Regions from separate parts of the Homo sapiens genome. Here region 1 is linked to region 2. The links come from fine-mapping of genetic effects on gene expression. A gene starts in region 2. The other region holds a variant in brackets. All regions are shown on one strand. Distances are from middle to middle. Region 1 has its middle 16 kb from the start of UNC93B1. Region 2 holds the start of TCIRG1 (T cell immune regulator 1, ATPase H+ transporting V0 subunit a3).

What was found. PIP is the estimated chance that this variant, and not a neighbour inherited with it, causes the effect.
Region 1: its variant is the best candidate, but not a certain one, in a credible set for the expression of TCIRG1 in T cells (TOPMed, PIP 0.58).

Annotation. Positions count from the first base shown.
Region 1 is chr11:67,985,503-67,990,868 of GRCh38, reverse strand. No RefSeq gene overlaps it. Among named protein-coding and RNA genes, the nearest start is that of UNC93B1, 16 kb to the left of the region's middle. The variant T/C (reference allele first, on the strand shown) is at 2,725.
Region 2 is chr11:68,035,603-68,040,968 of GRCh38, reverse strand. TCIRG1 (T cell immune regulator 1, ATPase H+ transporting V0 subunit a3) reads right to left here and starts at 1,944. Exons shown (of 20, transcript NM_006019.4): 1 at 1,850-1,944. It overlaps NDUFS8 (NADH:ubiquinone oxidoreductase core subunit S8), which reads right to left. Exons shown (of 7, transcript NM_002496.4): 6 at 4,588-4,716; 7 at 4,325-4,507. The coding sequence ends at 4,376. RefSeq lists silencers at 1-72, 1,753-1,832, 1,893-2,072 and an enhancer at 1,964-2,585.

The sequences.
Region 1 (5,366 bases), 50 kb after region 2:
AGCCAGGAGAAGGGAGCGGCGGAGCGGCTGGCAGAGACAGAGGAGGGTGTGACGGCGTTGCTGGTCCCCCATGGGTCCAGAGGGCGAGACAGACTCCCGAGACACACCCTCCAGAGGCCTGTGTAGGCATCCTCCGCCCTCCAGCGACCACCCCCGCGTCGGACAGGGTCCACTTCCGAGCCACGGTGGGGTCACCCTGTGCCCAGTAGGGGCCTTGGAAGTGGTGGTTGGAGGCCAGGTACGCTCGGTGACTACCCTTTCCCGGCTACAGCCTCAGCTGCGATGCCCACGAGAAACAGGCTGGTGGAGGGGCAGACCCCCTACAAGGCCTGAAGGTGCCGTTCCTCCACCCGCTCCTCTTGTGGCCAGAGGAGAGGACACCCCCGCCATGAAGAGCTCTGAACGGTTGGGTGAGGACAAGTGGGGGCCGTGGGAGGGCCATGGAGCCCCCAGCTGCACCCCAGCAGGCCCGGGGCTGGCCCACACCATTCCTCACTCCCCACAGCCTCTTTACCCCTGACTTTGGCGAGACCCTCGTCCGTACCTCCAGGCTCCATGCCTGCCTCAGCATCGCTCTATGGATTCTCCCAGCCCTAAACTGGCCCCATCTCTCCTCTCTGCCCTCATGTGAGTTTGGTTCTTGAAGCCTCTAGTGGTCCCTGGGGCCAGACTCTGTGGCCTTGGACAGGGAGTCTGCCATCTGAGCCACAGGTTCCTTCTCTGTTGAGTGTGTGAGGGAACATGTTGGAGCCCTTAGTGTGGCGGCAGCAAGCGCACCAGGCCCTGTAAGAAACACAAAAGGGTGCGGCGGGAGACTTGACATTTTCTAAATCTGGGAGGGAACGCTGCCTGCCTCACGCCGACCTTCAGTGACAAGCAGACTCAGAAGCGGTCCCGAGGTGCCACCATAACCTGGGTGAAGGCCAGCACTGTGTGCTTCCAGTTCCCCCTCGGCATCTGTAGACTGAGTGTTCTCTGGAGGTGGCTGGCGACATCCTCTAGGCAGGCTCCAGCAAAACCAGTCGGAGTTGGGCAACCTGACGCTCAGATGATTCACCTCTGAATGGAGGGCAAGGTGATATTTGGAAGGGTGTGGGCCCCTGGGATGCTGGGCAAACGGGGAGCAGGTGCCTGGATAGTGGGCCTACAGCTCTTCCCAGTTCCGAGTCAATTCCAATGTCCATGGTGCCAAGGAACAGAGGCTGTGATGTTGAGCAGACTTGAAGGTGATCCAGGCACATGGAGTGGCCACTCAGGGGCTTGGCTCCTGGCTGTGCTCTTCCTATCTGGGCATTTCCCATGAGAAGGCTTCACAGGCCACCTGGCTGCTCCTGGCACACGGAGAATGCCCAGATGCTGACATGTGCCAGACAACACATATTTACACCTGATAGGCCACACACATGCAACATGCAAACACACGTGACGGGTAACACCTGTGACAGACACTACATGACAACACACATGCACACATGATGGGAAACACATATCACAGGCTGTGCGACGGGCAACACAGCGCAGGCAGTGCGACGGGCCCTGGCAGCAAGCTCAGCAGGCTGGCTCTTTTCGAGCAGGAGAAGAGCTCATTGTAAGAGATGACACTGGCGTAGGTGGCACCTCCCCTGTCTCCATCACCCCCGGATAAGGTGACTGGGTGGAGGTTCTGGACCCCTGAGTGGATAAGCAGGTTGTGTCATGGCCTCCGTGTCTGATTGCCACCCTCGCTCCCAAAGCAACTCTGTGATTTTGTCGATCTGCACTGTGGGGATTTTTCTTTTTCTTTCTCTTTTCTTTTCTTTTCTTTTTTTTTTTTTTTTTGCAACGGAGTTTCACTCTTGTTGCCCAGGCTGGAGTGCAATGGCATGATCTCAGCTCACTGCAACCTCCATCTCCTGGGTTCCAGCGATTCTCCTACCTCAGCTTCCCGAGTAGCGGGGATTACAGGCGCCCACCACCAAGCCAGGCAATTTTTTTTTTGTATTTTTAGTAGAGACGAAGTTTCACCATGTTGGCCAACCTGGTCTCAAACTCCTGACCTCAGGTGATCCACCTGCCTCGGCATCCCAAAGTGCTGGGATTATAGACGTGAGCCATCACGCCCAGCTGGGATTTTTCAATTATGTGATTCCAAGAATCTCCAGTCCAAGATTTTCCCTATCTTTAAGTTCTCAGTAGCAGGTTAGATAACCTGAGAAGTCTCCCTCTTCAAAACACCTAGAAATGCTGGGTAAGAAACAAATGTCCTTTTAACTATAGAGCTGAGGCCGGGCGTGGTGGCTCACGCCTGTAATTCCAGCACTTTGGGAGGCTGAGGCAGGCGGATCACCTGAGGCCAGGAGTTCAAGACCAGCCTGGCCAATGGTGAAACCCCATCTCTACTAAAAATACAAAAATCAGCCAGGAGTGGTGGCAGGCGCTTGTAATCTCAGCTACTTAGGAGGCTGAAGCAGGAGAATCGCTTAAACCCGGAAGGCAGAAGTTGCAGTGAGCCAAGATCACGCCATTACACTCTAGCCTGGGCAAAAGAGTGAAACTCCATCTCAAAAAATATATAAATAAAATAAAATAAATATATAGCTGAGTTCTTCAGAAAATAAGTTAAGTCCCCTAAGGCCAGAAGTGAAGAGGAGAGTGAGAACCAAGGTGGGGACAGAGGAGCTGGTGCTGCAACTGCCTGAGGGCAGGGCTGGGTTGAGCGTTGGTATCCCTTACAAGGCAGGGGGT[T/C]AGGGTTACAGTCAAGCATGATGAAGTTGGGGCCACAGAAATGCAACACCTTTAGAGAAAGGGACAGAAACATTTCCACCCAGGGGAACAGAGAGAGGTGAGAAATTTTGAGCTTTAGGTGGTGAACAAGTTTCCCATGAGATCGTTGCGTTTTCAGGCCTCTCTTATGTAAATGTGGAACTCCTACAATAAAGTCATGCCACCTGTGTGGTCTAGGAATGCCAGAGTTGAGAAATTAACACTAAAAAGTTGCTTTGGGCCGGGAGTGGTGGCTCACGCCTGTAATCCCAGCACTTCAGGAGGCTGAGGCAGGTGAATCACCTGAGGTCAGGAGTTCGAGACCAGCCTGGCCAACATGGTGAAACCCCGTCTCCACTAAAAATACAAAAAATTAGCCAAGCCTCGTGTGCCTGTAATCCCAGCTACTCTGGAGGCTGAGGCAGGAGAATAGCTTGAACCTGGGAGGCAGAGGTTGCAGTGAGCTGAGACTGCGCCACTGCACTCCAGCCTGGGCAACAAGAGGGAAACTCTGTCTCAAAAATAAAAGTTGCCTTGGCTTAGTGGTACCCTGGGACCACTAAAGCCCCTCTGAAGCTCAGCTCACGATCCAAAATTACAGAACACACAGGAAACACATCACCGCGAGAAAAGGCAACAGACATAAAAAAGAGCAGGATTCGACACCCGCTCCAAATACCCCCAGCTAGGAGAGAGAAGCTGTCCAACAGGTATGTGAGATAGGCAGCATCTATAAGGGCTGCCAGCGATCTCCCACCCTTGACTCTTCACAACTTTGTGTAATTTCCATCCCTTGATTGTGGGCTGGACCTAGTGAGTTTCTTTTAACCAACTGAATTCTTATTTTACTATTTTATTTTATTTTATTTTATTTTATTTTATTTTATTTTATTTTATTTTATTTTATTTTACTTAGAGATAGAGTGGCACTGTGTTGTCCATGCTAGGCTGAAACTCCTGGCCTCAAGCAGTCTTCCTGCCTCGGCCTCCCAAAGTGCCAGGATTATAAAGCATGAGCCACTGTGCTCAGCAGCCTTCGCATTTATTTATTTTTGAGACTCGCTGTATCGCCTAGGCTGGAGTGCAAAGGCACAATCTCGGCTCACTGCAACCTCCACCTCCCAGGTTCAAGCGATTCTCCTGCCTCAGGCTTCCAAGTAGCTGAGATTACAGGCGCCTACCACCACGCCTGGCTAATTTTTGTATTTTTAGTAGAGACTGGGTTTCACCATGTTGGCCAGGCTGGTCTCGAACTCCTGGCCTCAGGTGATCTGCCCGCCTTGGCCTCCCAAAGTGCTGGGATTACAGGCGTGAGCCACTGAACCTGGCTAACCAACTGAATGCTAAACTGGCCTGAGAGATTCTCACTCCCTGGTGTCCACACCCCGCTAATGCCCTCCTGTGAGTGAATGTGATGGGCTACAGTACTTTTGAGCTAATCAAATGGGACGCTACCTAATGGACCTGAACCAGTCAGGCAAGTCTTTTAAAAGAAAGGGACATGGCAGAGAGGCGCTCTTCTGCAGGCTTGGAGTAGGGCAAGTGGCCATGGTGCCACCTACAAGGGGGCCCCTGGAAGCCGAGAGTGGTCCCCAATGGCAGCTTACAAGAAAACAGGGACCTCAGTGCCCCAACGTAGGGAACAGCCCCTCTCCCCCCCTGGCTCTTAGGACCCCCATCACAGGGGGGTGAGGCACCCCCTGCGATGCGGGGAGTAAGAGCTAGCCCCTCTTCCCCCCCTGGGTTTTAGGATCCGCGGTGGACTCACAGCCTGTTTACCTTATTTTGAGCAACACCATCTCCCCCTCTGGAGATTATGAACTGTTTCACAGATGGGTGTATACCCTCAGTGTACAGAGGGTGTACACCTTTCTGTATTGGGAGTAATATCATCCTCTTCCTCCATGAATATTAAGAAGAGTATCACAGGGGTGTTTCCACTCCCTCGGATATCGCGTGTCATATCCTCCTGTCCCACGTTGCAATTAGAAACAATATCAGTGGGGGCGTGTCCACCTTCTGTGATATTGAAAGTAATATCATCCTCTTCCCTCCAGGATCATGGGAACAATATCCCTGGGGGGTGTTCACTTTCTGCCATATATGTAGTCATATCACCCCCTCCGCCTTGGAATATTATGAAGGACCATCTCACACAGGGGTGTATACTTCCTGCGATATTGGGAGTAATATCAACCTCTCGGCCTCTGAATATTAGGAAGAATATCACAGGGTGGGTGTACACCTCCTGCTCTATTATGGGGAGTAATATCATCCTCTCCCTTTCAGGATATTAATAACAATTTCACAGGCTGGGTGAACACAGCCTGCGTTGCTGGAATTATTATCACCCTCTCCCCCTCGGGATACTAGGAACAATATCACAGAAGAGGTGTACACTCCCTGCGATATTGGGAGTAATATCATACGCTTCTTCCGTGAATATTAGGAGCAATATCACCGGGTGGCTGTACATTGATTGCTATGTTGGCAGTCATGTCATACTCTACAAGCTGGGTATTAGGATCGGTGTCACAGGGTGAGTGTACACCTACTGTGATATGAAAACTAATATCATGCTCTCCATCCCTGGATATTAGGAACATTATCACAAGTAGATGTAC
Region 2 (5,366 bases):
CACCCCCACCTTCACTCTGGCCTCCCTCCTCTCGGGCTGCCGTCACCCTAGACAGGACCCCACTGGCCCAGGCACTTAGGCCCAGGGCTGCCCCGGGGGTGGCTGGAGCCCTCGCTGCTCCCTGTGGAGCTGCATGTGCTGAGTGGTAGGAGCGGGCATCTCCACCGGGTACCCTGGGGCTAGCCAGGGAGCACTGCTGTGGGGGGGCTGTCCCCTGAGGCCCGGGCCGCCCGGCAGCAGCCGCAGCCTTCCAGGTGTTGAAACCAACAAAAGTGAAACTACAGAATGGCGGGGAAGGGCCCGGGGCCTTGCTCAAGGCCGATGTGGGGTGGGGGCAGGTGCCAGGCCACCTCCAACCCGCCCTGGATGCTGGGGCCCCTCCAGCTCCAAAGCCACTGCTCTCAGGGCCCAGGGCCCCTCTGTGGGAATCAGTTGCTTAGCTCGAAAATTAGGGGGAGGGGACAGGCCTGGTCAGGGCCCCGCCTGCCCAGCCAGTCACTTCCTCCCCTGGGTCTGGTTTACTTAACTCTAAACAGGGAAACGCAGCCCCAGCCCCAGCCTGGGAAAGGAGAGAAGGAGGGAACGAGGGAACACTGAGCAGATGGCCCAAGGCTGCAGGTGGGCAGGGCAGGGGGCAGCGGGGCTGGGTTCCATCCCTAAGGACCAGGCCCGGCCACAGGGCAGAGGGACTTGGAGCCCAGGCTGAGATTGGGTGTGTGACCTTGGGCAAGTCTCTCACCCTCTCTGTGCCTCTACTTCCTCTTTGGGTGAATGGGACGTGGCACCCCTGACAGAGACAGGATCTAGGGAGGTGACAAAAATAACCAGAGCCTCAACTGAATCCCTTCATCCACACGACCTCACACTAATCCCTGGGGGGAGAAACCCTTGGGGAGGGGGTACGGTGCTTTTGTTTCATACAGGACTCCACTGACACTTGGAGAGGTAAAGTCCAATGTTATGTGCCCAGCACAAAGGGTGAGCTCAGAGGAGGGTTGTGTCTGACCTGGCTCCCTTTGGGGCTGTGCTGGCCAAATAAGGAGGTGTGGGGAATCAGCTCTGGGGATCTGGGGAGGGGTCACCCCTGGCTCAGGGCCATCAGGGCTCCCACAGCCACTATGCCGAGGGCTCGAGGGCCGGGCTCCTTCCAGCACTTCCCAGGGGGTGGGGGAACAACCTGTAATGGGCGGGGGGAAAGGTGTGGGGACGTGATCAGCCCCCGTGCCTGGCATGTGAGGCTCCACTGGCTCACCCCCTACCCCTGTCCCCCTTGGTCCCCGCTCTAGCCAGGGTCACCCAGCCACTTTTATGGTGTAAATGAATACGCCTCCATCCTGCGGCCCTGGGGTCCAGGCTCCAGCCCACTCCTCACCCTGTGCCCCTTTCCTGGCCCCTCCAGGAACCCAGCAGGTCTCTCTGCACCTCTGCCCTCCCCTCCAGATGATGGGAAGGCAGTAGGAGAGGGTCTGGCGCCCCCTCCATTCCAAATGGGGTGGGCTCTGGAGTCAAATGACCCAGCTGGTCTCCAGCTCTGACACTTCCTAGTTGTGTGGTCTCAGCTTCCCCATCTGTAGAATGGGTCCCTCCCTCCAAGGAAGCAGCAGCGGGGAAAGCTCCGCGCACACCAGGCCCGGGAACGCTGGGCTGTGTTGGTAAACACCCCATCCTTCTCCTCCTCCCTTGGGGATCCTCCGTGGCCCCCCGCAAGGCCTGACACCCTGCGGGGTGGCGGGCTGAGCTGCATTCACGGAGCCAACTGGGTGGGGCGCCAGGATCTCCTCCCCGGGGCAGGGGGAAGAGGGTGGGCAGGAAATTCTGGGGCTCCGCAGACCCCGGCAGGGGCACTCACCCCGGGTGTGCTGCGCGCCGCGCCTCCGCTGCTGGCTGCCCCGCTCCGCGCACGCCGGGCGGGACTCAGAACTGCACTCCCGCCAGCCCGGGACTAGGCGCCGCTCACTCCTTTCCGGGCAGGCGGGACGACGGGGAGGGGCCAGGGACGCCCCGCCCCCGGCCCAAGGCTCCACTGGAGTCCAGGAAGTCTGGGAGAGGTTGAGCCCAGGCTGTGGCCTGGCGGACGGGTCCTGAGGCGCTTAATCCCGGAGAGGAGGCCTGGAGAAAGGAGCGGATAACAGACCACTGCCAACCGCGCGCGTCTATGCTGGCCCCGATGCAGGGGCAGCTCCGCTCAGGCCCAGCTCAGGATAGGAGATGAGACCCTGCTCTCCTCTCACTTCGAGGCTTGTGCGCCTCTGGCTGATGGGACCCCAACATTCGCAGGCTCATGGGCTTGGGGTCCCCAGGATGCTCCCCCACCTCCGGGACCCCTCCCTTGGGCGGCAGTGAAACCCGCCGGTGCTTACACCTTCCTGCTCTTGACCACCCTGGAGAGGCCCCGCTCTGGCCCTTGGGTGGGTGGCTGCCCCACTCTGGGCCTGCTTCACTGGCAGCAGGACACAGGGCCAGGCCATGCTGCCTTGTTCTGCCCAGCGCCCCGCACCCAGCAGGCCCTGGGAGATACCCTGGGGCCAGAGGCCAGCTGTCAGCTCCACCTGCAGCTGCAGCCGCGGGGGGTAGAGGGGGGTGTCACTGTGACCTTGCTCCAGGTCAGCACCATGGGCGTCATCAGGTCCTAGTGCCTGGAAGCTGGGACTCACGACCGTCCAGCTGCCTGCACTTTGGACAGGCCTGGGGCATTCCCACTGGAGGCCAGGGGCCCTTCAGCTCTGGTGATCCCTAAGCCCCACACAGCGAGCACAGGCCTGTGGGGCTGCGGCAGGGGTGGACAAGTGGAGCCCCAGAGCCGGGCCTGGAAACTGAGTCACAGCCAAGCTCAGCTGTGGTTCCTCAGAAAATTGGGGGACTTGTGGTTGGGCGCCATAGGCCTGTTCTGACAGGGTCGGGGCCTGATACAACCAGACAGCCTGAGTGGGGTCTCAGCAGTAAGTGCCTGGGAGACCACGGTAAGGGAAAGAACCCAGCGGTGAGCTGGAAAGACTGACCCGCTTGGAATAGAAGTATTCAGTGCACAGCTACAGGCTCCATGCCACGCTCTGACGGCGGTTACGTCTGGGAAAAGCTAAACCGGCGGTGCTTCAGGAGTCCTGCGCCTGCCTTGTTTTTGGAAAGAACACCTGTTTTCATCAGTGGCCAAGATGAGCTGCGGGCCAGACCTGTGGACACTTCCCGGGCTCCAGGCTTCCCCTCGCCTCCTGCAGTTACTTCTCACCCCAGTGCCACAGGCTGTGGGGCCCAAGCGGGAGCCTGGCCACTTTGGCATTAGATGGCAATGCCTGGTCTAGGAAGGAGGCCCAGGTGTTAGACCTGAGAAAAGCTCCCTGGGAATGGGCTGGGAGAGGCTGGTGTTTTTGCTGCAGGCCTTCTCAGAGCCTTGAATGTCTACCATGCAGTACCTGCCAGCAGGCACACAGCAGCTGGAGCATTTCCAACACTCACTGGGCCAGGAAACTTGTTCTTTCGAAGAAGTAGCTTTTTACAAAGTAGTGCTTTGTAAAAAGCACTTTTGGAAATGATGGTAGATGGGGGGGGTCAAGGTCTCTGAACTGAGTTTTATTATGGGATGTGCCCTGCATGGCCCTGAGCAAGCCCTTTCACCTCTCGGAGCTGGTTTCCTCACTGCAAATGAAGTGAAATCCTTCCACAGTACTTAGCACAAGTTCAGGGGGGCTGCTTTTGGCCATTATATGGGCAAGGGGCTTGTGTGTGGCCCTAGGGAAACCCCACCGTGTCGCTGGGCCAGCAAAGCAGGAAGTGGTGAGCAGTGGCCGGGCCAGCACCCTGGCGTAGGGAACACAGGAAAGAGGATGTGGCTGGACGCAGGCCAGCTCAGGGCCAGCAGGGCCTGTGTCACCCTCGTGTGACTGTCACCCCAAGCAGGCTTCCTCCTACCCCCAGCAAGGATGCCCCGGCCTGAGTTTCTGCCACTTGCTGTTCTTCAGCCTGAGGTCTTGGGAGGCTCCAAGTCCTAAGCGTCTTACAAGTGGATGGCTCTTGGGAGACAGGAGGCCCAGGCCCCAGCCAGGACACCCGGGAGAGTGGGAACGGCAGGTCTGTGGTGACCTCTGGCATCGCTGGGCCTTGGGGAAGACGCCCAGGAAGAGGCAGGGTGACAGGGATGCTGCGGCCTGTGGTCTAGCCATGAGAGCCTGGTGGGGCCCTGGAGTCTACAGGAAGGCAGGGCTGGGGCAGCAGGACTCCAGAGAGCATAAAGACTAGGTGGCGACCTAGTCCAGTTGGAGGCACCACAGGCCTCAGGCAGGCCGGGAACGGCCCCACCCTGGACCACCAGAGTCAAGACAAGAGGCCGTGGGGTCGGAGTGGTTTTATTGGGCAGCAGGGGCTGCGGGCCGGTGGGGCGTCACCGATACAAGTAGTCAGCCTGGATGTTGGCGGCGATCTCGGCCTCCCACTTGTCCCCGTTGTTGAGCAACTTCTCCTTGTTGTACAGCAGCTCCTCATGGGTCTCCGTGGAGAACTCAAAGTTGGGGCCCTGCAGGTTGAGGTGCAGGGACGGTGGTTAGGCCCTGCTGAGGAGCCTCAGGCCCCCTCCCACCCGGGGGCCTCACGTGCCTCGACGATGGCATCCACGGGACAGGCCTCCTGGCAGAAGCCGCAGTAGATGCACTTGGTCATGTCGATGTCATAGCGGGTGGTCCGGCGGCTGCCATCAGCTCTTGGCTCAGCCTCGATGGTGATGGCCTGCGGGAGGGGCCACCAGACACTGCCACGCTGCCCTGTCACATCCCAGCCCCCAGGGCCCCTGTCACTGCTCATCCCCACCCCTGGGGTCTGCCAGAAGCCCTCTCCCCTCAAAGGCCTCCTGGACTCCGGCTAAGAGGCCGCCCTGCACCTCTGGTGCTCGCGCCTGTCTCCTCAGCACGTGCCCTGCTGGCGTCCCTGCCTTGCTGGTTTTTTTTTTTTTTTTTTTTTTTTTGAGATAGAGTCTCGCTCTGTCGCCAGGCTGGAGTGCAGCAGCACAATCTCGGCTCACTGCAACCTCGGCCTTCCCGGTTCAAGTGATTCTCCTGCCTCAGCCCCCTGAGTAGCTGGGACTACAAGTGTGCATCACCACGCCCAGCTAATTTTTGTATTTTTTAGTAGAGATGGGGTTTCACCATGTAGACCAGGATGGTCTCGATCTCTTGACCTTGTGATCCGCTTACCTTGGACTCCCAAAGTGCTGGGATTACAAGCGTGAGCCACCGTGCCCGGCCTGCCTTGCCTGTTTGTCAGCTGCTGGCGTCATCTGCCAAGAACCCCCTCTCACGAGGGGGCTGTTCACCGCTTTGTTCAGTGTAGCACCCGCTGCCCTAAGGGTCTCACCCTGCGGTGAGTGCTGAGTTACAGTC